Homo sapiens: one gene and its partners. The protein of the gene in region 1 interacts with the protein of each later gene in a pairwise test. Each region holds a gene or a part of one and is shown on either strand. Other genes may lie near its edges. The genes, in order: TMEM229B, NEMP1, VSIR, ITGAM and TMEM45B.

Region 1 (6,187 bases):
TATTTTAAGTAGTGTATATGTACGAGTTCATTCGTCCTCACAACAGCCTTCTGTGGTCATTACTTCCGTTATCCTCACTTTACCTACAAGGACCCTGAGGCACAGGGTGGTTGGGCAGCGTCCATTAGGTCTCACAGGTGGAAAGCATCAGCCAGGATTCCAACCCAGGCAGTTAGGATCATCTGGGGTCCCTGAACTTAACCAGCTGGCCATATTGAGACCTGTGAGGCATGGTTTGTTGTTGGATGACACAGGAGGGAAGAGCCTGCAATAATTTTACATGACTTCAGGTTTCTTTGGGTTCATTTGCTTAGCAAATTCATTGAACACCTTCTATACACGAGGTATGAATACGGTGAATACATATTCATTCCACAAGCATTTTTTTTTCCTTTTTTGAGACGGAGTCTCACTCTGTCACCTAGGCTAGAGTGCAGTGGCGCTATCTCGGCTCACGGCAACCTCCGCCTCCCAGGTTCAAGCGATTCTCCTGCCTCAGCCTCCCGAGTAGCTGGGATTACAGGTGCATGCCACCATGCCCGGCTAATTTTTGTATTTTTAGTAGGGATGTGGTTTCACCATGTTGGCCAGGCTGGTCTCGAACTCCTGACCTCAGGTGATCTACCCACCTCGGCCTCCCAAAGTACTGGGATTACAGGCATGAGCTACTGCACCCAGCTTCCACAAGCATTTTTTTTTTTTTTTGAGACAGAGTCTTGCTCTGTAGCCCAGGCTGGAGTGCAGTGGTACGATCTCGCTCACTGCTACCTCCACCTCCTGGGTCCCGGTTCAAGCAATTCTTCTGCCTCAGCCTCCCGAGTAGCTGGGATTACAGGCACACGCCACCACGCCCAGCTAATTTTTGTACTTTTAGTAGAGACAGGGTTTCACCATGTTGGCCAGGCTGGTCTTGAACTCCTGACCTCATGATCCACCCACCTCAGCCTCCCAAAGTGCTGGGTTTACAGGGTGAGCCACCACGTCCAGCCTCCATAAGCATTTTTAAGATGAAATTTTAGTTTTATAAAAGTTATACATGCTTGTTAGGAAAAAAAAGTATGCAGAAAAATATAAAGAAAAAAAGCACATATGATATCACCATCCAGAGATGATTGTTGTTTAATTTTTTTGTATATGTGCACATATGCATGCCTTTGCAGAATCGGAGTTAGGTTGAATATTCAGTTTTGAATCCTGCTTTTTTCTCTTACCACTATCTTAAACAAGCATTCCTCAGGAGGCTGCTGGTGCTGGCGTTCAGATGAATCCAGTGAAGCAGAGTGCTCACTATTACCACAGAGAAGGGAGGGTGCAGAAGTGGGAAGACAACTCTGGAGTCAGGGTGCTTAGGAAAGTCCTCACAGAGGAGGAGCTGGGTCTTAAAGGAGGGTTCACCGGCCCTGGGTGGGGCCCAGGTAGCAAAAACAGCAAGGTAGAGATCTGGAGGACAGGATTGGAGGCAGGGACGAGTTGTGAAGGGCTTTGCCAGCCGTCCCCAGGGGTTTGAGCTTTATTTACTCTGTAGATGTTGAAGATCCACTCATGGGCTTCAAGTGGTGAGAAACATCGGATTTGCATTTTAGAAAGGTTGCGTTTTTTCTACACACTCTTTCATCCTGTGATGAGTGAATTAGAAGGAAGAAGGCAAAGCTGGGAGACCTTTGGAGTCATCCAGGTGAGACATGATGAGGGCGTGAACCAGAGCAGTGGCAGCAATGAGAAGAGTAATGAAGAGGAGGGGATGGATCCCAAAGATATTTAAGAGGTGGTAAGGGTGGGAGTTAGTAGCTGACTTGGTGGCTTTCCCTTGGCCAGTGGGATGATGGTGGGCATGGCTTAGCCAGGGTCTTGAACCACACTTGTACAGCTAGCCTTGCTCAGCTTTGTGCCTCTGCCCTTGCCATGAGAAGAATATGCCCAGGCAAGTCCACTGGGCCCCGGAGGAGGATGAGAGACAGGTGGAGTGGAGCTACGCTGCCCCAGCCGTCTGCCAACCACAGACATGTGAGCTGTAATAGTAGACGGTAGTTGTTTTAGGCCAGGGTTTTTGAGATGATTTGTTATATGGCGATTGCTAACTAAGAAATGTCTTTATTCTTCTCTTGAATGCTTACTATGTGCTGGGCTTTGTGCCAGGCACTGGGAATACTATGCTGAACCAGGCAGGCAAGGCCCTCACTCTCAGGAACTCATGTTAGGGTGGGGATGTGGCAGAGGAAGCCAGACAGACTTTGAGACCGCTGGTTCTAACTGGGTGCATGGTGGTGCCATTAATTGGGGTGGGGGTCTTAGGAGAGAAACAGGTTTTGGGGAAAAGATAATGGGTTTGATTTTATTTATTTATTTTTTAGAGACAGAGTCTCACTGCATTGTCTAGGCTAGTCTTGAATTCAAGAGTTCTGGGCTCGAGCGATCCTTCTGCCTCTGCCTCCCAAAGTGCTAGGATTACAGGCATAAGCCACCACACCTGCCCATGGGTTTGATTTAGGAAAGGAGTTTGGGATGCCTGTGGGACATTAGGGGGAGCTGTCTAGGGAAGGGCAGGAGCTATAGGTGTAGCACACAGGAAAGAGGTCTGGCCGGGGACAGAAATTCTCAATATAATATTGAAAATAACCTGTAGCAAAGGGAGTGAGACAGAGTAAGTGCTGTAGAAATTCAGAAGAGGAAGAGAAGCCTTGGGACCTGGGGGAATGAAAGAGATTTTGTTCTGAAGGTAACCTGCAAGCTGGTTTATACTCATGGAAGTGAGAGGAGAAAGGCACGCCTAACAGAATGAATAGGACCTGCAAAGGCATGGAGATGAAAGACAGGAAGAGCTGGATTGTGAGGAAAAGGCTGAAGATGTCAATCGGGGCAAGGTCATGAAGAATCTTGAATGGCAGGCCAAGGATGCTGTTGTGTTTCATTAGGAAATAAGGAGATATCGAACATTTTTTTTTTTTTTTTGAGATGGAGTTTCGCTCTTGTTGTCCAGGCTGGAGTGCAATGGTGCGATCGCGACTCACTGCAACCTCCACCTCCCAGGTTCAAGCGGTTCTCCTGTCTCAGCCTCCTAAGTAGCTGGGATTATAGGCGCATGCCACCACATTTCAGCTGAAGCAGGCCTGGTCACATTAATACCTACCCATCCATTGTTTTTTTGTATTTTTAGTAGAGACAGGGTTTCATCATTTTGGTCAGGCTGGTCTTGAACTCCTGACCTCAGGTGATCTGCCCATCTCCGCCTCCCAAAGTGCTGGGATTACAGGCGTGAGCCACTGTGCCCAGCCACTATCGAGCATTTTTGAGCAGGGGAGAGACATTTGGTACGTATGTCTAAGAGATGGGCAGTCATGTGCAGGGGATGAGTTCTGCAGTAGAAAGCAAGAGATATTGGTTCTAATCTCAGCTCTTCCATTTACTGGCCCTGGGATATGGGGTAAATAATGTCCCCTCTCTGAGCTCTGTCTCACTGCAAAAAAATGGGAGTAAAATTTTCTGACCTTCACATGAATCTTTTTTATTTTATTTATAAATATATTTTTTGGAGAGGAAGTCTTGCTCTGTTGCCCAGGCTGGAGTGCAGTGGCATGATCTTGGCTCACTGCAACCTCCGCCTCCTGGGTTCAAGCAATTTTTCTGCCTCAGCCTCCCAAGTAGCTGAGACTACAGGTGCATGCCACCACACCCAGCTAATTTTTGTATTTTTAGTAGAGACAGGGTTTCACCATGTCGGCCAGGTTGTTCTCAAACTCCTGACCTCAGGTGATCCACCCGCCTCAGCCTCTCACAGTTCTGGGATTACAGGTGTGAGCCACTGCGCCCAGCCTGAATTTTAATTATGTAAGAACCATGACAAAATGCGAACGAAGTGCTTGGAAGACCACAGAGCAATGCACAAGGCTGGGTAGGTATTAATGTGACCAGGCCTGCTTCAGCTGAAATGTGAGGCTGGAATTCCCAGACAGGTGTGCATACTACAGATGCCATTTCCTTAACCTCTGTCTTTTCTCCCACCTTGGAGAGGGGATCGACAGAGATGTGAAGCCATTAGCAGCTGGCAGAGCTGGGATTTATGTTCTCAAGCCCTACCTTCCCATTCTTGATGCAGTCCCACACCTCCCTCCACATGAACAGGACATGTCATTTAGAGAGGGCCTGCCCAGGACGGGCCTGCGTCAAGGCCACAAAGCACTGGCCTGTGCAACAGTCACTATCCTCAAGGAGTTCACATGCTAGTTGGATCATGAGAGCACATACCTCAAAAAGCCATTGGGGTGGCACCTGATAATGGGCCAGGTAAGTGGTGCAGACAGTCGCTGGTGGAGGGTGAGGAGAAAGTAGAGAGAAGCAGCATGGGAGCCGGGCGTTGAAGACTGGTGGGGTTTAAAAGAGGGGAGGGGAAAGGAGCCAGAAGGACTGGGGAGGACTCTTTCCTGTGTCAATCCATTGGTTTCCCCTCAGCACTGAAACCAAACACCAAAACCCCATTTAATGGAGCAAAGACAAATGTGACCACAATGAGAGAACCACCTCACACCCATTAGGATGGCCATTATAAAAACAAAACAGAAAATAACAAGTGTTTGGGGTGGATGTGGAGAAATTGGAACCCTTGTACATTGCTGATGGGGAATGTAAAATGGTGTGGCCACTGTGGAAAACAGCACAGTGGTTCCTCAGAAAGTTAACCATAGAATTACCATATGATCCAGTATTTCCACTTCTGCATATGTACTTGAAAGAGTTGAGAGCAGGGACTCAGACAGACCTTTGTACACCCGTGTTCATAGCAGCCTTATTTTGAGTAGCCAAAAGGTAGAAGCAACCCAGGTGTCCATCAATGGATGAATGGATAAACAAAATATGGTGATATATACAATGGAATATGATTCCGCCTTTAAAAGGAAGGAAATTCTGGCTGGGCACAGTGGCTCACGCCTGTAATCCTAGCACTTTGGGAGGCCAAGGCGGGCGGATCACCTGAGCTCAGGGGCTTGTGACCAGCTTGGGCAACATGGTGAAACCTCGTCTCTACTAAAATTCAAAAATTAGCCGGGCATGATGGTGTGTGCCTGTAGTCCCAGCTACTCAGGAGTCTGAGACAGGAGAATCGCTTGAACCCAGGAGGCGGAGGTTGCAGTGAGCCAAGATTGCGCCACTGCACTCCAGCCTGGACGACAGAGCGAGACTCCGTCACAAAAAAAAAAAAAAAAAAAGAAGGAAATTCTGACATGTGCTGCAACATGGATGAACCTTAAAGACATTAGGCTAAGTGAAAGCTAAGCCAGTTATGCTAAGCCAGTCACAAAAGGACAGTGTTTGTATGATTCCACTTATATGAGGCACCCAGAGTAGTCAAATTCATAGAGACAGAAAATAGAATAGTGGTTGCCAGGGGCTGAGGGTATGGGGAATGGGAGTTTGTATTTAATGGATACAAAGTTTCTGTTTGGGACAATGAAAAAGTTCTGGAGATGGTTGGTGGTGACAGTTGCACAACAATGTGAATGTACTTAAGACCACTGAATTGTACACTTACACATGGTTAAAAAATGGCATGCACACACACAAGGACAAATGTGATGAGTCACTTACATCTCAGAAATATGAGTGACATGGAACTGTTTGAGAAGAAGTGGAGGAAGAAATGGGGTCCCCAGTGGATAGGCCTGCTGAGAAATCAGCAAGTAGTCTAGAAATGGGGCTGATTGGTGCAGCAGGCCAGCCGACTCTTCAACTGACCACAGATAATCCAAAAAAGCTCTAGGGAGTACAGACACCTCCCTCTAAGTAGCATTTGGGTAGAGTTGCAGAGAAGTCAGTGGGGTGGGTGGGTTATTCTGTTCTTTGCTCTGTTTTTTTTTTGTTTTGTTTTTTTGGAGACAGAGTCTCACTCTGTCTCCCAGGCTGGAGTGCAGTGGCGCAATCTTGGCTCACTCCAACCTCTGCCTTGCGGGTTCAAGCGATTCTTCTGCCTCAGCTTCCCAAGTAGCTGGGATTACAGGAGCGGGCCACCACGCCAGGCTAATTTTTGTATTTTTAGTAGAGACGGGGTTTCACCATGATGGCCAGGCTGGTTTGGAACTCCTGACCTCAAGTGATCCGCCGCCTCGGCCTCCCAAAGCGCAGGGATTATAGGCGTGAGCCACCGCGCCCGGCCCTCACCTGTCTCTCTTGCGCCCCCCGCAGCCAGCCCCAGTCG
Region 2 (6,011 bases), on another chromosome or scaffold:
CCAGCTGCCTCTTGTATTCCCATTAATGGGAGTCTCTACATTAATGCTCTACATAATTTGGTCAGACTGATGAGAGGCAATAGATTTCCAATGCTGATGAGATCCAGAGCCCTGGAGCCCATTTATGGCTTGACATTCACCCAGCAAGACGCTGACGTGGCAGCAAACACGGCTCCAATGTCCAGCTTACCTCATAGTTATCCCTTCAATCCTTCTTGATGAGATTGGTCTGAGAGATGAGACTGTACTGAAATCACAAGAGCTATAACTGCCAGAGAAAAATTAAATGGGGTCTTCAAGTAGTGACTGAGCCAGCAAACTAAGTGGCCAAGAGGGAGACAAGAGCAGCTCCTAAAGAAGGTTGAAGTCAAGCAATCTCCGGAACACAGAGGATCTGAAGCATCTGGGCAGAGCCACAGGCAGGCAGGGCAAGGACACACAGCACACCAGAGCAGCACCGTCCTTCACTGTGTGAGAGCAACTCTCAGGCTGCAGAACCAATTGCCATCTCCACTGCCTACAGCTCAGGTCTCCAACTACCAGATAGGGAGTAAAAAACAGTTTGATTTTATTCACCTCAAGTCTAAACACGGTGGAAAAAAAACTGGTCTAGAGATGGAAACTATATTTCATGGGGGTTTATTAAACAGAGAAAGAGGAGAATCTTTCACAATTTCACAGTGCTTTCTCATTGAAATAAAGACATGATCAGGAAAAGTCACCCTTATAGGCAAGCTATCACCTCCCTAAGTAGGGGAGGCACCAAAATCTCCAGAGAATCCTGAGACCACTTGCACGAGTTGAATTATTTTTTAAAATAAACTTATGCTTAAATATGCTAGGTCTCAATTTCTATAAATAAGGTAAAAAATAGTATATTTCAGAAGTTTTAATAGTTCTTTGTAGAGAGAGAACATTTTACCATGTACATAATTCACAAGGGTATAAAGGTTTCCCAATGTAAAGTTCCTTTTACCCTTCAACTGTAACCCATAGCATCTGCCCAAATACTGCTCATTTTTCACTTTCTACTATATGTCTCTTTCCTGCCAACTGAGGTAGTTGTCACTTAGGACAGTTTAAGGCTCTGGAAAACACTGGTGGAAATAATCAACTGCCCACCTGGAGGGCAGTCTCAGAGCTGACCCTTTGGAAGTCTGCAATGGAGCTAGGCCTTTCAAAATTACCACGCTAAATGGCTGGTCTAAAGGAGTCATTACGGCTTTTTAAAAAATCATCTGCCTTTTTCCATCATCTTGGTGAGCCAGTAAGTCTGGTGCTGTGCGCTTGCCATGACCATCTATCTTCCTGGCTAAGGTAATTACAGACTTTTCCAGGGTATAAGGGTGAAGACCACAAAGAAAAAGAACCAAGTAAATGACAGACACTTGAGAATTTGCTTCCTCACAGATGACATTGCTGGTTTATAAGGGGTACTTTGCAATGGCAAAAGAATCTGAAACTAATGCTACTGCAATAACAGGCAGCATACATCTCAGGTCAGAAACGCAATCATAAATAAGTGTAAGTTCATGGAAACTTGACAGCTGAATGAGCACCCAGAGGCATGAAGATAACCTGGAGCCTATTTCCTGGCAATGCAAATTGTGGCTGCTGCATAACTACAAATTGTGTATCAAGAAACTACATAGTTTCAAGGCTTAAAAATTACCCAGATTTGGGGGAGTATGGGTGGTGAGAAAAGGCTGAAAGGAATGGACAGAGCATGTAGACAAAGGAAGGGAAAGGAAAAGGAGACAGTTTCCTGATTTCATAGCAACTCAAAGATAACATGACCCAATGACAGGAAAATGGAGAACGTATAAAAAGCATCCAAATCCCCTAAACAAGATGACTTCTCCTAGCTAGCAGGAATAATGCTACTCTGAACATACATAGTTCACAGGTAAGGGAACTGACCCTTCCTGAAAGGGCAAAGGCAGGGTAAGGAAGAATGGGAAGAGAAGAATACAAATGTTTTTTAAGATGGAATTGAAAGTTGAATATAATAAAAAGCCCAGTACATCTCACCTGCAGAAGAGCCTACAGGCATGTTCCTAAAGGCAAATAGGACTTTCTATCATATGTATGAGAACTAAATCAAAGCTTAAAACAACAGCTCCTGGGGCTTTAATGGATAATCCATATTAATAAATATGTAGGGGCCTAGGGGGTGTGTCACTCTGGAGCACTTGCTGGTTCTGGAACATGAGTTTGTTATGTTTTTTAAAAGACATTCATTTAAAAAACAAAACAATAAAAATCTATTTTCCTCCCAAAACAGTTAAATCAATAATTATTCTAAAGTCACTGAAATAAAAGCTGGAGTGAAGGAGGCTCAGATTTGTGGATTTCTCTCTGGAAGTTGCAGCCTATAGTCTAAAAGCATTCCTGCACTTAACAACAGTTCTTACTTTGGAGAGCCAGCCAGTGACAGAAATGCCATGATTGAATCAACTTTCAAGAAGGAGCTAGAATGCCATGCTAGCTGTGGCCATCCAATTTCTCTGGAAACATAAAAGTGGGCTGTTAGCTTAACCAATGGGAAGTGAACTACCCAGCATTCACTACTTTATCCACTCTCCTTCCTCAGGGATCCCATAGAGACCTCCCATTTCCAAAGGGAGGCCTTTTTAGGCCTCTTATTTCAGTAGGAGAATTTCTACCCTATCTATCTCACTCTGTTTCAAAGGGTTGAAAGCAATTGCACAACACATGCAACATGGACCAAGGCACCAAGCCAGTCCACGTAAAGATAACTGACCACTACCTAGGTTAGAAAGTTGTTCTGTGTGATAGCAGGACACCGAGAATATGAGTCCTCCTCCTCAGAGGATGCTTCCTCATAGATTTCATCCTGGGCAATAATGCTCCCTAATCCATACTCCTGCTCATGGACAGAAACTTCATTTGGCGTGAGGTGGGAAGAGCCTTCCACAAAGTCAGCAAATCTGGAAAAGAGAAGATAATACTCGTTAGAAATATCCTTCTGTCCTTTCTGGTCTTCTTTCAAAATAAGAACAAATTAAAGCCCTCGATATGCTCGCAACTCAAATTATATTAAGTCTAGCCAACATCCTTGTCCTTACTCTGGCAGGTAAGTAGACTAAAGCATGAAGTTAAGGAGAAAAGGAAAGCTGGGATCATAGGCTAATACCCCTGCAACTCCATCCTGCTTAATAAGCACTTGCCTATCCTTTCTAATTATGAAAGTGCCAAGGTTCCTTTAGTCATCTGTAATCCTGATAAGAGAAGATTAAGGGGCATTACAGTTATTCACGTTTATGGCCCTGTAAACTTTATGCCATCATGATTCCAAATTGAAGCTTCACATACTCATTGGTACATTTGCCCCCAACTAAAAAGTGGGTAGGGGGGAACCCTACCAACTCAGACAGCAATGCAAAACTTTCAGAAGGGAAACTTAATATGGTACTGGAGTCTTCCCATCTTAATGCTACAATCAAAGCTAGAGTAGATAGTTCCCTGAGGAAACAGGTTACTGCTTAATGTGTGATTATATATCCACCCTTCTCTTGACTACTTGAAGATTAACAGGAAAACAAAGGTCACAAGTGCACGATTCTCTAGAAGTATGATCTCTGGTAGAACTCAAGGTCACAATTACCCTGATAGATGCTTGGTATATCTGGCCGAGTTTACCTTTTTGGAGACTGGATTCGAGAAACAGTCTTCCAAGCAGAGCAGTCTGGACTGTTACAAAATTCTCGGAGCTCCTCTAAAGCCTTTCGGGTTTCTACCTCTCCTTGTATCCGATATTCTTCTTCTGTCAGGAGACGAGGGGGAACAGGCTTTTCTGCTCCCTTACACACCTTTCTGTGCTCACCAAAATAACATTATGAATCATTAATCAGTAATCTATATCCATCCTTACTTCTAGCTCCCTTCAGTGGGCCAAGAATACAGCAGACAGCCTGAACATTAAGAGTCATCACTCCTAAAAATTCCATGGACATCTTTAGTTATAATGAACTCCTGATACATTAGACTATGAGTGACAATTCATAGGCGACAGAGCGAGACTCCATCTCAAAAAAAAAGTGATATAATTTGCACCACCTTGTGGTAACAGGAACACATGACATTTTACTAGACCTTTTTATTTTATATAAAATGACTAGAATAAAAATATAAAAATGCCTATAGAAAGTAAAAAATTATAGTCAATATTATTCACTAATGTGAACAAACTCACTTTATTTTCCAATAAATGATAAAATACTTACTTATTTTCTAGTAGATGGGAAAATAACAGAAAATCATGGTATAAGACTGTGGTTCTAGCCAGGCACAGTGGCTCACGCCTATAATCCCAGCACTTTGGGAGGCCAAGGCAGGCAGATCACCTGAGGTCAGGAGTTGGAGATCAACCTGACCAACACAGAGGAACCCCATCTCTACTAAAAATACAAAATTAGCCAGGCATGGTGGTGCATACCTGTAATCCCAGCTATTCGGGAGGCTGAGGCAGGACAATCGCTTGAACCAGGGAGGCGGAGGTTGCAGTGAGCCGAGATCATGCCATTGCACTCCAGCCTGGGCAACAAGAGCAAAACTCCATCTCAAAAAAAAAAAAAAACAAAAAAAAACGCCGGGCAAGGTGGCTCACACCTGTAATCCCAGCACTTTGGGAGGCCAAGGTGGGCAGATCACAAGGTCAAGATTGAGACTATCCTGGCCAACATAGTGAAACGCCATCTCTACTATAAAAATGCAAAAATTAGCTGGGCATGGTGGCATGTACCTGTAACCCCAGCTACTCAGGAGGCTGAGGCAGGAGAATCGCTTAAACCCAGGAGGCAGAGGTTGCGGTGAGCTGAGATAGCACCACTGCACTCCAGCCTGGTGACAGAGCAAGACTCCATCTCAAAAAAAAAAGATTGTGGTCCAGTAACTTGGTTTCCCAAACTGAAAGCATCACCTTGACTATCTATAATAGACAACTTCAGGACCTAGTAACATTCCATATTTATTATGCAAGGTGACAAAACATGCTATGAATTACATCTTAAAATAAGACTAAGACCTCCAGAGCAATCTGAAAGCCACTGAGAAATAGTCTGAAATGGGCTGGGTGAGGTGGCTCACGCCTATAATCCTAGCACTTTGTGGGGCTGAGGTGGGCAAATCACCTGAGGTCAGGAGTTTGAGACCACCCTGGCCAACATGGTGAAACCACATCTCTATTAAAAATACAAAAATTAGCCAGGCATAGTGGCGCCCACCCGTAGTCCCAACTATTCGGGAGGCTGAGGCAGAAGAATCACTTGAACCCGGGAGGTGGAGGCTGCAGTGAGCCGAGATCACGCCATTGTGCTCCAGCCTGGGTGACAGAGAGAGACTCTGTCTCAAAAAAAAAATCTGAACCCAGGAGACCTCAATGAGCATACGGTATAAAAGCGATACAATTTGTGGCGGGGCGCAGTGGCTCATGTCTGTAATCCCAGCACTTTGTAATCCAAGCACTTTGGGAGCTCCTCAGCACTTTATGAACTCCTGACATTTGAGGTCAGGAGTTCAAGACCAGCCTGGTCAACATGGGGAACCCTACTAAAAATATAAAAATTAGCTGAATGTGGTGGCGCATGCCTGTAATCCCAGCTACTCAGGAGGCTGAGGCAGAAGAATCGTTTGAACCCGGGAGGTGGAGGTTGCAGTGAGCCGAGATCACGCCACTGCACTCCAGCCTGGGCGACAGAGCGAGACTCCATCTCAAAAAAACAGTGATAGAATTTGCACCACCTTGTGGTAACAGGAACACATGACATTTTACTAGACATTTTATATAAAATGACTAGAATAAAAATATAAAAATTCCTATAGAAAGTAAAAAAAAAAAAATAGACTCGGGAAGGAACAAAAGTGGAAGTACAATACAATGACTTTTCATTAACAAAGAAGCTCCCAGGTCAACACCTCTGTATCCTCTTGCTGCAACTGCATCCCACAATGTACCTGTCAATATTAAGTTACATTGCCTTTCAGTCACC
Region 3 (3,500 bases), on another chromosome or scaffold:
GGGTCCCAGCCTGCCGCCGAGGGTCCTGGGCTCTAAGGGCAGGGAAGGGGCATCTGAAGGAGGATGTGGCATTATATTGGTTCTGGGCAATGCCCCTGGCTGGGGCAATGAAAAGGATGTATCAGTTTGGATTCTGTACATAGTTCTAACCCTCCTTCCCTCTCTGCTAGACCCACAACAGCCTGACATGCCATTTAAAATAAAAATACCACTGGCCGGGCGTAGTGGGTCACACTTGTAATCCCAAGACTTTGAGAGGCCAAGGCAGGAGAATTGCTTGAAGCCAGGAGTTCAAGGTCAGCCTGGGCAACAGAGGGAGACTCCGTCTCAAAAACAAATAAATAAATAAAAATAACACCAACGCATAATAATTATAGCTATCCCTCAGATGTCTGCAGAGGGCATTAGAGCTCACATCTTGTGTTCTCATCTTTCCCTCATCTAGTCCTTTTGCAACCCTGCATTGTAGCCAATAGTTTTCTCACTGCACAGAGGAGGAAACTGAGGCTCATACAGTTAGATAGAAACGCGGCCTCTATCCAATATTCTGTTTTCAAAAGCTCATGGTTTTGAGGGTCAACCCAATTAAATGCTGGAGGATTGGGATAAGGCAAAGTGGACCAGGGAATTGCTTCATTTGCTTGGTGAAAAAAACCAAACAGAACTAGACAGTTTTCTAAGTTTGGCTGGAAGGACGTGCATGGATGAGATGACCTTTCATATACTCTCTGTCCCGGTCCCTCAGACACTGGGTTTTCCCATTTTCACACTATCTTGCCTAGGACACCCTTTCTACTGGCTGAAATCCTATCTATGCACCAAGTCCAAAGACTCTCCCTCCTTCAGGAAGTCCCTGACTGTCCCCAGAAGGCTGTTTCCTCCCTCCTCCAAGTGCCCTGAGGGCTGGCATTGGATTGCCTTTGCCATGGGGTTCTGCTGTCGGGAATGCAGGCCTCGTCTGCTCAAGGGGAGGCCATGCATTCAGCATGCAGGTGAGATGCAGCACCTGGCCCAGGCCTTGCACACGCAGGTGCTCTCTTAGTGCTCCCTGGCAAGGATGGGAAGGCATGTTCAGTCCTAGGAGTAGGAAGGGGCAGAGGTGTTGATGGCCCCTACAGAGCGGCCAAGGACAAGGAGCTGCTGTTCGAAACAGCCTTCCTGCTCCCCAACCTGCCTCCCACCCAACAGGTTTTGCATATACTCTACTGGGAAGAGGGACACACCCGACTGCATCACTGCCCTCCAAGTCTCTCCCTGCCCTGTCCAGCATCCAGGAGCACCCCTAGTTGGGGAAGCTTCTGTGACTCCCCCTACAACAGCCTAGGATGGAGTGGGGTTTGTGAACAAATGCAGAAGGCAGTCTTAGGGAGGTCAGCTGACATGCCCCTGGCCTGTGGCTGGGAAGTAGCAGAGGCTAAGGTTCTTCCCCGCTCTGGGGTTGCCAGGAGTAGCACTGGATCAGTCAGGTGACAGGGCTCTCCTCTCTCTGAGCAGGTCCGGTGGCAGCCTTCAAGGTCGCCACGCCGTATTCCCTGTATGTCTGTCCCGAGGGGCAGAACGTCACCCTCACCTGCAGGCTCTTGGGCCCTGTGGACAAAGGGCACGATGTGACCTTCTACAAGACGTGGTACCGCAGCTCGAGGGGCGAGGTGCAGACCTGCTCAGAGCGCCGGCCCATCCGCAACCTCACGTTCCAGGACCTTCACCTGCACCATGGAGGCCACCAGGCTGCCAACACCAGCCACGACCTGGCTCAGCGCCACGGGCTGGAGTCGGCCTCCGACCACCATGGCAACTTCTCCATCACCATGCGCAACCTGACCCTGCTGGATAGCGGCCTCTACTGCTGCCTGGTGGTGGAGATCAGGCACCACCACTCGGAGCACAGGGTCCATGGTGCCATGGAGCTGCAGGTGCAGACAGGTGAGGGCATCCTGCACGTGACAGCCTGGCGTGTGTGGAGGGCTGCCTGTCTGATGGTGTGACCATTCATGACACTGTGCTGGGCAGAGTGTGAGGCTGCATGGGTAACACTGGCACTCCAGGGAGTGTGTGGGTGAGATGGGGTGGTCAAGGGTGTGTGGAGTGTGGGTTTGTAGTTAGCTGGAGTGATGGAGAGGGAGGGTGTACCTGGCTCCATTTGTGACAGTGAGACTTTTTAATGTGTGAGGCTGTAGGTACCTGGGCTGGGAGTGTGACTGCTCATGATGACATCATGGCTGCTGTGGGTATAGGCATCAGTGGGACTGATTGGTGCCCTGGGGCATGACTCAGTGGATGGCTGAATGGCTGTTGGAGAATATATGCGTGTGTGTGTCTGTCTGTTCAGGTGAGAGTGCAAGGGCCCATGGTTCGGATAGAGGTGTGGGCACCAGCGGGTATTCACATGCCCCTGGGAGTGGCATGAAAATGGGCAGGGTGAGAACATGCCAGGGTGTGTGTGGGTGCACACGTGTGCAGGCTGCCACTGGGCCAACACTGCCGAGTAGGCACTAGCGTGAGAACCTGGGGCAGGAGGGGGACACTGGCCTGGACAAGCCTCCCTGGCCTCCTGGGCCTGACACCCACCTAATGGCCCTTCTGTTTGTTCCCACAGGCAAAGATGCACCATCCAACTGTGTGGTGTACCCATCCTCCTCCCAGGATAGTGAAAGTAAGGGACCAACCTCTTGCCCCTTTTGGGTTCTCTGTTTTCTTCTGTCCTCATCCTGCACCCAGACCCTGTTTGGAACTCTGGCCTCATCACCCCAAGCCCTCAGAACCCCCCGGTCCTCCTCCTTTTCTGCTGCTGCACATCCCTTCTGCTTCCTCCTTGGTGCAATCCCCAGAAGCCCACTCTCCTTCCATCTGCTCTGGAGTCTCTGCTCCTCTTGACTCTCTGGAGTGGCTGTGCCTTGGCAGTGACCTTTGGCCAGGGCAAGTGCCTCATGACAGGTACTGGGTGCCCCAGGCAGCTAAGTGCCGCCCTGCCCACCAGCCCCCTATGGCTTGGGAAGGCTGGGGGTCCTCTTGGCCTAGAATTAAACTACTTCAGATTTCTGTGTTCTGTGTTTCTATGTTCTTCAGATGTTCTCTGTTGCAGGGGAGGGAGGAGGAAGAGGTTCAGGAAGGGGAACAGAACTACCTTTCCTGAGTTCCCACTGTGCTGGGCACTGGACTAAGTCTTTTTAAGTATTATTATCTCAGGGATATATATATATATATATGTGTGTGTATATACATATATATACACATATATACATACATATATATGTATATACATATATATACATACATATATATGTATATACATATATATACACATATATACACACATATATATGTATATACATATATATACACACATATATATGTATATACATATATATACACACATATATATGTATATACATATATATACACACATATATGTATGTATGTGTGTGTGTATATGTGTGTGTATATATATGTGTGTGTGTATATATATGTGTGTGTGTATATATGTGTGTGTGTGTATATAT
Region 4 (6,187 bases), on another chromosome or scaffold:
TTAACTATATATATATATATATATATATATATATATATATATATATTTTTTTTTTTTTTTTTTTTTTTTTTTTTTTTTTTTTTGAGACAGAGTCTCACTCTGTCACCCAGGCTGGAATGCAGTGGCCTGATCTCGGCTCACTGCAACCTCCACCTCCTGGGTTCAAGCAATTCTCCTGCCTCAGCCTCCTGAGTAGCTGGGATTACATGCGTCCATCACCACCATCAGCTAATTTTTGTATTTTTAGTAGAGACAGGGTTTCACCATGTTGACCAGGCTGGTCTTGAACTCCTGACCTCAGGTGATTCACCTGACTTGGCTTCCCATAGTGCTGGGATTACAAGTGTCAGCCATAAATATATATATTTTTAAAATTCAAAAGTAATAATACTCAGTTAAAAAACCCAAATTATGCGAAAGTATAAAAACAAAAACCGTGAAGGCTTCCTTTCCCTTCCCTGCTGCTTTTCCAGGTCTCGGGGCAGTTGCATCTCAGTGCTAAGTCTCAGGGGAGACGGAGCCCCTCCGAGACCTCGCCTAGCTGTATCTGTGTCTGGGACTCTGCTGACATTTCCTTTCTGACGTTAATAGCATCTCTGGCTAGGTGCAGGGTCTCATACCAGTAATGTCAGCACTTTAGGAGGCCGAGGTGGGAGGATCACTTGAGGCCAGGAGTTTGAGACCAATTGACAACATAGTGAGACTCTATCTCTAAAAAGATAAAAAAATAAACCAAGTGTGGTGGTACATGCCTGTAGTCCCAGGTACTCAGGAGGCTGAGGCAGGAGAATCACTTGAGCCCAGGAGTTCAAGTCTGCAGTGAGCTATGATTGTGTCTCTGCACTCCAGCCTGGATAACAGAGTGAGTGTCTATTTCTTAAAAAAAAAAAAAAACTAGTGTGTCATCTACTTGCATTTGACTTTGTCCCTCCTGTTTCCTGCACAGACGAGAGCTGTTTAACATCACCAACGGAGCCCGAAAGAATGCCTTTAAGATCCTAGTTGTCATCACGGATGGAGAAAAGTTTGGCGATCCCTTGGGATATGAGGATGTCATCCCTGAGGCAGACAGAGAGGGAGTCATTCGCTACGTCATTGGGGTAGGGAATGCAGCTCTCAGGTTGATGCTTCTGTGGAGGGTTTCTATGTGGATCCATCCTCCCTTCAATTTGCAAATATTATTAAAATCAAAGTGACATGAGAGCTAATGCTAGCTCATATACACCGTATCAGCTATCTGTTGCCACATCAATGCTGTGTAATAAACTATCCCAAAATTCAGCAGCTTAAAATAATAAGTAAGCCTGTGGGTCAGCCTGCCAAGAGTTCTGGTCTCAATGGCCTTCCTCACTGTCATTAGCTACAGGTTGGCAGGCTGCTCTGCTGATCTTGGCCAGGCTCTCTCTGTTTCTGAGGGTTGCCAGCTATGTCATCTGCTGGACCAGATGGCCTTGGGTGGAACCACTGGGGTGACTTGGCCCTTTGGCAACCTGGCTCTCATTCTCCAGGGCTAGCCTGGGCATGTCCTCATGGTGAAGGCAGGGGAGCAAGAGAACAGTGGAGATGTTGCAAGTGCTTTTTTACGCCTCTGCATCATGTTTGATAACATCCATGGGTGTCACGAGCAGTGCAAGGTTAGCGATAACCAGGTCCATGCAGGTTTGTGTTTTTCCACAACATCTTTCGCTGATGCTATTTCAATCACAAACGCCACAAGCTGCATGGAATTCCCAAGGAGGCAGTTCTTCTTAGTGCATCCTGTTCCCTCAGACACTCTGGCTCAAGCCACCCACAAGTCAGTCAATATTGCAAACCATATATAATAGTATACTTAATCAATATATAAGTTATAGGTTAAACATTCCACAGCAAACAAAGTAACATTTAACATCAGAAGAAAAAGAAAGAGGAGAAAGGATGAATGAAAAGGACTCCTGGTCTGGGCCCAAGGGTCCTGGTCCTGTTAGTCTTGCAAGGCAGAGTCTTTGATACGGCAGAGCCCTCGGCAGCAAATGCCAGGCTCTCATCATGAGCGACTGCGAGGTGTGAGTTCCAACAGCTGCTTTGAGCTGCTGAAGGCCTGATCTCTTCTAGTCACAGAGCTGTCTGGTGAGAACAGACAGAGAAGAATGTGCTTGTTTGCATCCTTATCTGGTTGGATGTAGTCTTTATTTGTTTATTTTATTTATTTATATTTATTTATTTATTTATTTTGAGACTGAGTCTTGCTCTATCGCTCAGGCTGGAGTGCAGTGGCATGATCTTGGCTCACTGCAACCTCCACCTCCTGGGTTCAAGCAGTTCTTGTGCCTCAGCCTCCTGAGTAGCTGGGACTACAGGCATGCACCACCATGCCTGGCTAATTTTTGTTTTGTATTGTTAGTAGAGATGGGGTTTCACCATGTTGGCCAGGTTGGTCTTGAACTCCTGATCTCAAGTGATCTGCCCGCCTTGGCCTTCCAAAGTGTGGGATTATAGGCATGAGCCACTGCACCTGGCCTATTTAAAAAATTTGTTTAAAACGACCTTATCCTTGTTGGCAAAGTGCCCTGTGAAATATAGAATGGAGCCTTTTTCTAAGATGGAGTCAGTTATGTCAAGGGTGCTCTGTATACAATGGGCTAAAGCAAGACTCATGTCTGAGCCCAGAGGCAATGAAGGGGGCAGATGACTCCACCAAGAGCAGGAGGGCACAGCAGAGTGCTGGGGGAAAGGGCTTGGATACAGGAAGAGGCAAGGAGTCAGGATCATCAGTGTAATCAAACTACTACAGCACCTGCATGACACAGAAAGCGATATCACCATGGATACATGCCTTGGCACGTAGGACATACCTTCATATAAAGAAAAAGGCTCCCCTTCCTCTAGGGGGAGGTCAGCTCCATACCAGGAGACGTGGCACAGCAGATGGATCAGCAGCCGGGTTTCTGCCCCAACTTGCTTCCTTGGCACAGTGCCTTGTGCAGTGTACAACCTGCCCAACTATACCTGGCAACCCTGTCCCAGGGACCTTCTGATGCATTTCCTCACTTGATAAATAATGGTTCAGACTAGTTTCCTGCAGAATTGTCTTTGCCAGATGATATTGCTAGCCTCACACCATGATTTAGCCTCTGTTCCTTGGTAACAGGTGGGAGATGCCTTCCGCAGTGAGAAATCCCGCCAAGAGCTTAATACCATCGCATCCAAGCCGCCTCGTGATCACGTGTTCCAGGTGAATAACTTTGAGGCTCTGAAGACCATTCAGAACCAGCTTCGGGAGAAGATCTTTGCGATCGAGGGTGAGTCAGGCATCTGTGTTCCCAGAGCAGCTCCAGAGGCAGCCCCCCACCCCAGAACATAGTCCCCTCTAGAATCCAGACCTTCCTAACCCTTGGTATCCCCCAGCATCAACTCTCTCCACTTCCTACAGCTCCCAGTCCCAGCCTCACTTGGTCAATTCCTTTGAAGTCAAAGAATCCATACTTTTATCTGTAATTTTGCAAATCTTGGCTATAGGCTGGTAAATTGGAGTATGGGGGAGTCAAATCCCACCCAGTATTTTAACAAAAATTTGGATGTGTTGCCAGCTGTCGTCTGTTCGGTTCTCTGTTGTATCCCAATTGCCTAGAATAGTGCCTGGTACTCAGAAGGTGCTCAATAAATGTTTGTTGAATAAAAGGAATTTAGAAATTGGGGGATTTCATAAACAGTCTGGGTTTATGGCTTATCTTGAAAAGCTGGAAGATTAGACACCTTGAAGACCGCATTCCCACTTGGCAGGATGTTGCTGGAGGTGAATGGCTGCCATCCTTCTAAGAGGGACGTATGCTGTCCAGCTTGACACAGATCCTGTCGGAGTCTCCTTTGTCTGTGGCCACCAGAGCACTTGGGTTTTCAGTACCTGTTCTAGGTTCTTCTGCTTTCTTTTCTTTTCTTTCTATTTTTTTTTGAGACTGAGTCTTGCTCTATTGCCCAGGCTGGAGTGCAGTGGTGCGATCTTGGCTCACTGCAACCTCTGCCTCCCAGGTTCAAGTGATTCTCCTGCCTCAGCCTCCTGAGTAGCTGGGATTACAGGCGCATACCACCACGCCCAGCTAATTTTTGTATTTTTAGTAGAGACGGGGTTTCACCATGTTCACCAGACTGGTCTCTAACTCCTGACCTCAAGTGATCTGCCCATCTCAGGCTCTCAAAATGTTGGGATTACAGGCGTGAGCCACCATGCCCGGCCTTCTGCTTTCTTTAATATAGAAACTTCTCCTCTTTACAGGTACTCAGACAGGAAGTAGCAGCTCCTTTGAGCATGAGATGTCTCAGGAAGGCTTCAGCGCTGCCATCACCTCTGTAAGTGGCCCTTCATTAAATTGCGGGGGTGGGGCAGGGGGTAGCAAGAAGAGATAGGAGAGATGTGGGGGTTTGGGGACTCTTCTCTGTGATAGATACTTGGGAAGTAGCTCTGTGAGGGGCAGCGGTTGTCCCTTCTTCCTTCCTCATCAACCCTGTTCTACACCTTTCCCAGAATGGCCCCTTGCTGAGCACTGTGGGGAGCTATGACTGGGCTGGTGGAGTCTTTCTATATACATCAAAGGAGAAAAGCACCTTCATCAACATGACCAGAGTGGATTCAGACATGAATGATGCTTACTTGGGTAAGTGGGGAGGGCAAGGGTTACTCTAAGAAGGGGTGAGGATTTGGCATAAGTCAACTAGCATAGATGTCTGGGTCTTGAATGAATGGGATACATATGTATGGGATACTAGCTATTAGTCTCTTGGGATAGCTTTAAAGACAGAAACTTCAATTTTTTTTTTTGAGGTGGAGTTTCTTTCTTGTCGCCCGGGCTGTAGTGCAATGGCACTCGGCTCACTACAACCTCTGCCTCCTGCGCTCAAGCGATTCTCCTACCTCAGTCTCCTGAGTAGCTGGTATTACAAGAATGCACCACCACCCCTGGCTAATTTTTTTTTTTTTTTCGAAATGGGGTTTCGCTCTTGTTGCCCAGGCTGGAGTGCAATGGCGTGATCTTGGCTCACCACAACCTCCGCCTCCCAGGTTCAAGCGATTCTCCTGCCTTAGCCTCCTGAGTAGCTGGAATTACAGGCATGTGCCACCATGCCCAGCTAATTTTGTATTTTTAGTAGAGATGGGATTTCTCCATGTCGGTCAGGCTGGTCGCGAACTCCCAACCTCAGGTGATCCACCTGCCTCGGCCTCCCAAAGTGCTGGAATTACAGACGTGAGCCACCGTGCCTGGTCTTTTTTTGTATTTTCAGTAGAGACCGGGTTTCACCATGTTGGCCAGGCTCGTCTGGAACTCCTGACCTCAGGTGATCCGCCTGTCTCGGACTCCCAAAGTGCTGGGATTATAGGTGTGAGCCACCGCACCCGGCCAGAAACTTCTAAATTGAATTGTAATTATGTTCATAAAGAGAAATATAGCGTAGGGATCAGTTACCCCAACACAGCAAGCGTGGGGCTGCCCCAGTGCCCCTACTCAAGGGGTGGGTCTGCATGGTGGAGGAGGGGGCAGGGAATGCACTTCACCTCTCAGACCCCCACCTTCAGGTTATGCTGCCGCCATCATCTTACGGAACCGGGTGCAAAGCCTGGTTCTGGGGGCACCTCGATATCAGCACATCGGCCTGGTAGCGATGTTCAGGCAGAACACTGGCATGTGGGAGTCCAACGCTAATGTCAAGGGCACCCAGGTGAGTGCGGTTTGTGGAGCATGAATGTGCAAACAGAGGCGCCCTGGGGTCTTAGAGATTCCAGGAGGGGCATTCAGATGACATGCATGGCCCTCTTGTAAAGGAGGCTTTGGGGGCTGTGAGCTGGGGAGTTGTGGGATCAGCTTAGCATTTGTGAATGCTGTGTCCTCAGCTTTTTTAACAATGATAAATAACAATGCTTGCCTGTACAGAGCTCTCTATGGGTCTTTCTGTACTCAGGGCTGGTATTCAACCCGTATATAACCAGGATAGCCATGTTAGTTAATAAAATATTGAAACAATTCCGTATTCATTGATAAATGGTGGATTCCCCCTCACCCATGCACTCTGGTGCTTCCCCAGTCTCTGTGGGCTTCCCCATGATCCAGCAACTATGAGGTCAGGCAGGACACTTCACACACCCTCTAGGATCTGCTCCAGCCATGCCCCTGCTCAGTACCTGTGCAGCTCCAGCTGTTCATTATTTTGAATATCA
Region 5 (6,187 bases), on another chromosome or scaffold:
CTTTGGTCAACATAAATCAATGTATAGTCTTAGAAGTCGTTCATTGTAGAAGGTTTTCATTGAGTTTATACTGAGTATAGAACCCTAGCGGCAATTACTTTCAATGCTTTGGGTTGTGTTTTTCTGATATTACCATATTCTAAATAGCATGCAGATACGGGCCATTTCTTCTTCTCTTTTCCAGTTCTGGATGACATCTATTGACATCCTACCAAGAAGGATGAGGGTTTCGCTCCTTTACACCCCCACCCTCCCTCTCACCTTCACATCCCTTTCTTTTAAGTTCCCAGTACGGTTATATCCTAAATTTTTGATATGTCAATGTTTGGTGTATATATTATTCCCAACTAAGGCACATGATACACCATGATCTTTACATTTCCCTTCTTGACCAGTCTTTCCCCCAACCCCCTGGAATGGGGTGTAGGAGTTGCTACATTTTCTTTAGTTGTTTGAGAACTCATCACCAAGAAGTCATTTCCTGGAGCCAAGGAAACTCATGGGGGCCCTCTGAGTGCTGCTAATTGCATGGAGCTGTTGAGTGGGGAGGAAACGCCAGGCCGCCATCAAGAAGCATTTGGGGTAAATTTTCCAAGCACATCTGAAAAGACAGAGTCTAGAACCTCCACGGTCCCTGTCTGTTGTGATTTATTTTCTCATTCTAAATACACACACACTTTTTTTTTCTGTCTAGGCCATCTCTTGTGGAATACATATGTACTTTCATACCCAATTATGTACAGTTTTTGTAATTTTACGCCTTTTTCTTAAAGAAGGCTCCCAAAAGTGTATAAGATTCAGGCCCCATAAGATGCGGTTGCTTTTTGAGCTTGTGCCCATTTGAGATGTCACTTTTCTTCCTTCACACTTGCTTGCTGGTTTGGCTGGGTATGGGATATTAATCAGAAATCATTTCCCGTACGAATTTTGAAAACATTGCTCTATTTTATTCTACTTTCTTACGGTGCTGTTGAGAGGCTGATGCCATTCTAATTCCTGATCCCTTGTATTTTGTTCTAATCTCTGGGCATTTGTAGGGTTTTCTTTATTGTTCATATTCTGATATTTCATGATGTTGTTATTTAATGTTGGGGTGGGTTTTTTGGCGGGGTGGGGGGAATACAGGGAGGTATCCGTCACTGTCCTAAGTATTTTCTAGGCCTTTTCAATCCAAAAAGTACATTCTTCAGTTCTGAGTGGTTTTCTTCTGTTATATAATTTCCTCGTTCTTTCTTTCTGAAACTTAAATTACTTAGACTGAATCTGAAAATGGGATCTCTTGGATCTGTCTTGTAATTTTATCTTTTTTATTTTAAAAAATATCCCATGTTTTTTTAGTTCTAATAAATCTTCCAACAATGCTATTAAATGTTTACATTCTACCATTATATTTTTAATTCTCAGGAGCTTTTATTGGCGAGAGGTGTGGTCTTCTGAATGGTTTTTACAGTATCCTGTTCTCATTTCATGAACGCAGCATCTTCTCTTCTTTCTCCAAGCATATTAACTCAGTACTTTTTCTACATTTTAGAAGTTTTCTTCAGCTACCTACAATGTCTGTGTCTATTTTTAAAGTGACGTTTAATGTTGCTTTTGGCCTGCCTTTCACGTTGGAAGCTTTATACATGTTTGGGGATGGTGTGCGTCATCTGTGAGCATGGCTTGTAGGTTGGCTGGCTTCATTGCAGGGTGGTTAAGCAGAGAAGGCCTTTTTGATGGCTTATCATCATCTGTCTCTAGTGCTTTCTAGTACATATAATGGGTTTCTCTGTAGAAAGATCTCATTTCTAGCCATTTATTCCTGTTTGAGAAAAGTCACATAATAACTTAGATGTATTTATTATGTCATCTGCTTAATAGCGGAGGTTCTTGTTGTAAGGTGGACAGGTGGAGGTCTAGGATTCAAAATGGGAAATGTGTCCTTGACTCCGCCTGCACTTTGAAGTTGCTGATGTTCTCCATGTTTTATTTTCTATTGAAAAAGCTCTGAGATACTAGGGAATGAAAACTCTTTGACTACATGTACAACTAATTTACTTTTTGATAACCATTTGCAAAATATGGATTATATTGGGAAAACATTTTTCTTTTTTTTTTTTTTTTTGAGACAGAGTCTCACTCTGTGGCCCAGGCTGGAGTGCAGTGGCGCGATCTCAGCTCACTGCAAGCTCCGCCTCCCGAGTTCAAGCCATTCTCCTACCTCAGCCTCCTGAGTAGCTGGGATTACAGGCGCCCACCACCATGCCCAGCTAATTTTTGTATTTTTAGTAGAGACAGGGTTTCACCATGTTGGTCAGGCTGGTCTCGAACCCCTGACCTTGTGATCCACCCACCTCGGCCTCCCAAAGTGCTGGGATTACAGGCATGAGCCACCACACCCAGCCTGGGAAAATATTTTTCTAATATCTCTAGAATTTGGGACAGAATTTCTGTCCTTGAAGGTCACCCTCCAAATCCATGCAATTTTTCCCTTCTGCAGCCCCACAGTGATCATCAAAACTTGGAGCAGATTCATGTTTTTTATTTTTTTCCTGGGAAAGTTTTAGATCACGTGAAGGGAACAGATACTACGTTTGATAGGAATCGTTCCTGCTTTAGCTTCTTAAGGCCTCTCACTTGGAAAGCCTGCCCATTAGACCCTGATTTTTTGCTGTTAGCTTTTCCTTCTTAGGCGACTTCAACAAAGACTGCAAACTCCCTGACAGCACAGGCCCAGGCTTGTCACCCCTGCAACTCCATCTCCCAGAACAGTGCCTTATGCATAACAGGTACTTGATAAATGTTAGTTGACTTAAATTGACCCTATTATCTGTTTTAAACTAGCCCTTCCTACCTGTCCCCTTGCTATTTCCTCTGTTTCTGTTAAATCTTTTTATGTCACCACCTCTTGGATGATGCTACCTCATTCTCAAATCTGATGGTATGGAATAGCTATAAGAAAACAAACTTGAAAGATCTCTAACTACTAGGACTCTAAGTAGAATTTCCTGGATTGAAAACTCCCCATATCACCCTACTAAATATCTAATTATTTCTTAGGTTATCACCAACCACCCTGCATCGAGTCCCTCCTGAGCCACAGTTCAGTTTGGATTATTTTTTTCCTCATGTTCCATCCCTTGACTGTAGTGCCCTTCCCTTCCTTCCAGTGTCTTTGATCGGCCTGCACTTTGATCCAGAGCTTCTCTTTGATCTGTTCTAATGGTCATTTTTCTGCCTCCTCCCCTACATTGATCTACAATCTGGCATATTTTATACATTATACAAAGCTCATTGTTGTGCTCATTTCAGAATACCTACCTGTCAATCACACAGACATCTTTTCAAACCTAACTCAGACCCACAATGAAAGTCCCTCTCTTCTGGCCATTACTGAGATAGCTCCTGCTTCGGTCTCACTGGGGCTGTTTATTTCTCTATGGGAGGCTCTAGAACAGTAACTAAACTACAGTGCAAAACAGTGATCTATAGATTACTGTTTCTCAATCGTCAGCACTAACAATAGAGTCTAAACTCCCAGGGACCTGGAGACTTGTCTGAGAACAGCCTGGCATAAGTGCAGTCTCTCTTAATACTAAAAAATATATGCTACCCCACAATATGTCTGTATCTGTTTTAAAATGAAAATCATTTTTCCAGAATCTTTAGGTGAAATTGATACTCCAGGATTATGTTCGTCTTGTGATTTCAGATATCATCTGGGGGGAAAGGATTCACACATATGCCAGTCTGTGAGACACAGTAGTAGAAATCAAGGGACTTACCTAGCTCTAAGAATTGTATGAAAATAGTAACGGTACCAACAATTTTACCAATGGCTAGATTTAGGAGATGGTGTTCTCTTGATTCAAGATGAAGGCTAAGCTGCATCAGTTCAGTTCAGTTTAAGAACTATTATTATGTATCAAGCTTGTGCTAGTTTTTGATGGAGATGATAAGGTCTCCACTCTTGAAGATTCTGTAGACTAATGGGCAAGACATATGTCACTATATAATTTTAATATAACATGGTAAGTGATAAAAAATCATGGTATGTATGAGGTCCTTTGAAAACACAGAGGTGAGGCGCTTAGCCCAGCCTGGAGATTCACAGAGGCTTCCTGGAGGAAATAAGGCCTAAATATGGAAACCAAGTAAGAGGAATGAAAAGGACGTGCAATTTAGAGGGGACAACATGAGCAAAGGGGACACTGTCAGGTTCATGGTGGGGAGAATTGGGAGGTGACACTGGAGAGGAGCCACATTCAGGTATACCCAATGCAAGGGGACGTGGACCCCTCCACAGGCTGCTGGTTAGCCAATGGAACATTTTCCATCCTCCAGTAGTGTAGTCAGATGTACACGGAAGGTGGATGACTGGCTGCGGGGTGGAAGAAGAATTCATGGACAGCAGGACTAGAGGCCTCGCAGTGTTTAGGAAAAAGACAATGAGAGACCAAATGAGATCATTGCTGCAGGCACAGAAGGGAAAGAGAAAATACCAGGATACTTGGGGAAGCGAATTTAGCAGAATTTTGATGTCTTTGGGGGCAATGGTGAGGGGAGAAGAGAGTCCAGAATGACTCCCAAGATTCTGGCTTTCTGGGTGACTGGACATTAAGCCATTAACTAAGTTTGGGATATGAGAAGAGAAGCCGATTTGGTGGGGAAAGAAGATGGTGAGTTCAGTCTTGGAAATACTGACTTGAGGTGTCTAAGAAACATCTATACGTTTATGTGCATGTCTGTCTGTTCAGCAGGTTGTTGGATCTATGAGTCTGAGACTTAGAGACAAGGCCAGAGCTGGAGATGAAGTTGTGGGAGTCACCATTGTGCAAGTGGTGATTAATCCATGGGTGTGCGTGAGAGTTCTTGCAAGGGGAAGAGGAAACGGAAGTAAGGGCTTATGCAAGGAGGACTGTTGAGTAAAGTGGAAGGCCCAGCCTCTGCCTGCTCACTAATGTCAGTGCTGAACAAGCCCACTGGTAGTGGATGCTGAGGGAAGGAAGGAAGGAGTCTGTCTGTAAGCTTGAGCACTTTTTCCAAGAGGTGGAGAAGGCAGAGAGCCCAAGCCTTGAAGAAATGTTCCTTAGTGGCCTGGCATCTTGGAAATTTGACTCCATGACTTTGGAGAGATCTTTCCATTATTATTTTCCTTGAGCGCCCAGAAAGAGAATTCTGAACTAAATGTATTCTTTCCCATGGCTGAGTTAAGGATAGTGTTAATTACAGAAATATATGTAAGGTTTTTTTTGGTTTTTTTTTTTGGTTGTTTGAAAACTAAACCCACCTTTGAAGTCCAGAGATGTCCTTTCACTCTAATGTATGCTGAGGTGGCAACTGGTAACTGCTTCTTTGTAGGTAATAGCCATAGCCTTAGTTTCATCCTCCCTTCTCCATGACCAAAACTTGCTCCAACTTCTGCATTTCGTTTTTGTGATGTATTAATGAGGAGCAAAGACATAAAGGAATTTCAGAATTCAGAAGAGCCATGGAGAGTCCCTCTTCCAAACTCCCTATTTAACAAATAAAGAGGCCGGGCGCGGTGGCTCACGCCTGTAATCCCAGCACTTTGGGAGGCCGAGGCGGGCGGATCACGAGGTCAGGAGATCGAGACCATCCTGGCTAACACAGTGAAACCGTGTGCCTACTAAAAATACAAAAAATTAGCTGGGCGTGGTGGCGGGTGCCTGTAGTCCCAGCTAATCGGGAGGCTGAGGCAGGAGAATGGTGTGAACCCGGGAGGCAGAGCTTGCAGTGAGCCGAGATGGCGCCACTGCACTCCAGCCTGGGGGACACAGCAAGACTCTGTCACAAAAAAAAAAAAAAAAAAAAGGACCCTGAGAGGCTATGTGTCTTGCTCAAGGTCACAGAGTGAATTCCTAGCAGCATTCAGGCTAGGACCCAAGTATTCTGACTCAGTGGCCAGTGTTCTTGTTAGATAGTGAGAAAATAGAATTTAGTCCAATTTGTTTTTCTTTTTTTTTTTTTTGAGACGGAGTCTCGATCTGTCACCCAGGCTGGAATGCAGTGGCGCGATCTCGGCTCACTGCAAGCTCCACCTCCTGGGTTCACGCCATTCTCCTGCCTCAGCCTCCCGAGTAGCTGGGACTACAGGCACCCACCACCATGCCCGGCTAATTTTTTGTATTTTTAGTAGAGATGGGGTTTCACCGTGGTCTCGATTTCCTGACCTCGTGATCTGCTC

The links.
Region 2: the proteins of TMEM229B (region 1) and NEMP1 interact in binary tests that used the Homo sapiens proteins (3 or more experiments, as listed by UniProt).
Region 3: the proteins of TMEM229B (region 1) and VSIR interact in binary tests that used the Homo sapiens proteins (3 or more experiments, as listed by UniProt).
Region 4: the proteins of TMEM229B (region 1) and ITGAM interact in binary tests that used the Homo sapiens proteins (3 or more experiments, as listed by UniProt).
Region 5: the proteins of TMEM229B (region 1) and TMEM45B interact in binary tests that used the Homo sapiens proteins (3 or more experiments, as listed by UniProt).

Annotation. Positions count from the first base shown.
Region 1 is NC_000014.9:67,473,929-67,480,115, reverse strand, and holds part of TMEM229B (transmembrane protein 229B), read left to right. Parts: intron 1-6,174; 5' UTR 6,175-6,178; coding exon of another isoform or gene 6,179-6,187.
Region 2 is NC_000012.12:57,057,109-57,063,119, forward strand, and holds part of NEMP1 (nuclear envelope integral membrane protein 1 isoform a precursor), read right to left. Parts: coding exon 6,011-6,011; intron 3,838-6,010; coding exon 3,664-3,837; intron 2,952-3,663; coding exon 2,771-2,951; 3' UTR 1-2,770. UniProt on the Homo sapiens protein: Together with EMD, contributes to nuclear envelope stiffness in germ cells. Required for female fertility. Essential for normal erythropoiesis. Required for efficient nuclear envelope opening and enucleation during the late stages of erythroblast maturation.
Region 3 is NC_000010.11:71,760,021-71,763,520, reverse strand, and holds part of VSIR (V-type immunoglobulin domain-containing suppressor of T-cell activation precursor), read left to right. Parts: intron 1-1,494; coding exon 1,495-1,923; intron 1,924-2,596; coding exon 2,597-2,653; intron 2,654-3,500.
Region 4 is NC_000016.10:31,272,419-31,278,605, forward strand, and holds part of ITGAM (integrin alpha-M isoform 2 precursor), read left to right. Parts: intron 1-946; coding exon 947-1,100; intron 1,101-3,130; coding exon 3,131-3,281; intron 3,282-4,252; coding exon 4,253-4,326; intron 4,327-4,501; coding exon 4,502-4,631; intron 4,632-5,548; coding exon 5,549-5,691; intron 5,692-6,187.
Region 5 is NC_000011.10:129,820,755-129,826,941, forward strand, and holds part of TMEM45B (transmembrane protein 45B), read left to right. Parts: intron 1-6,187.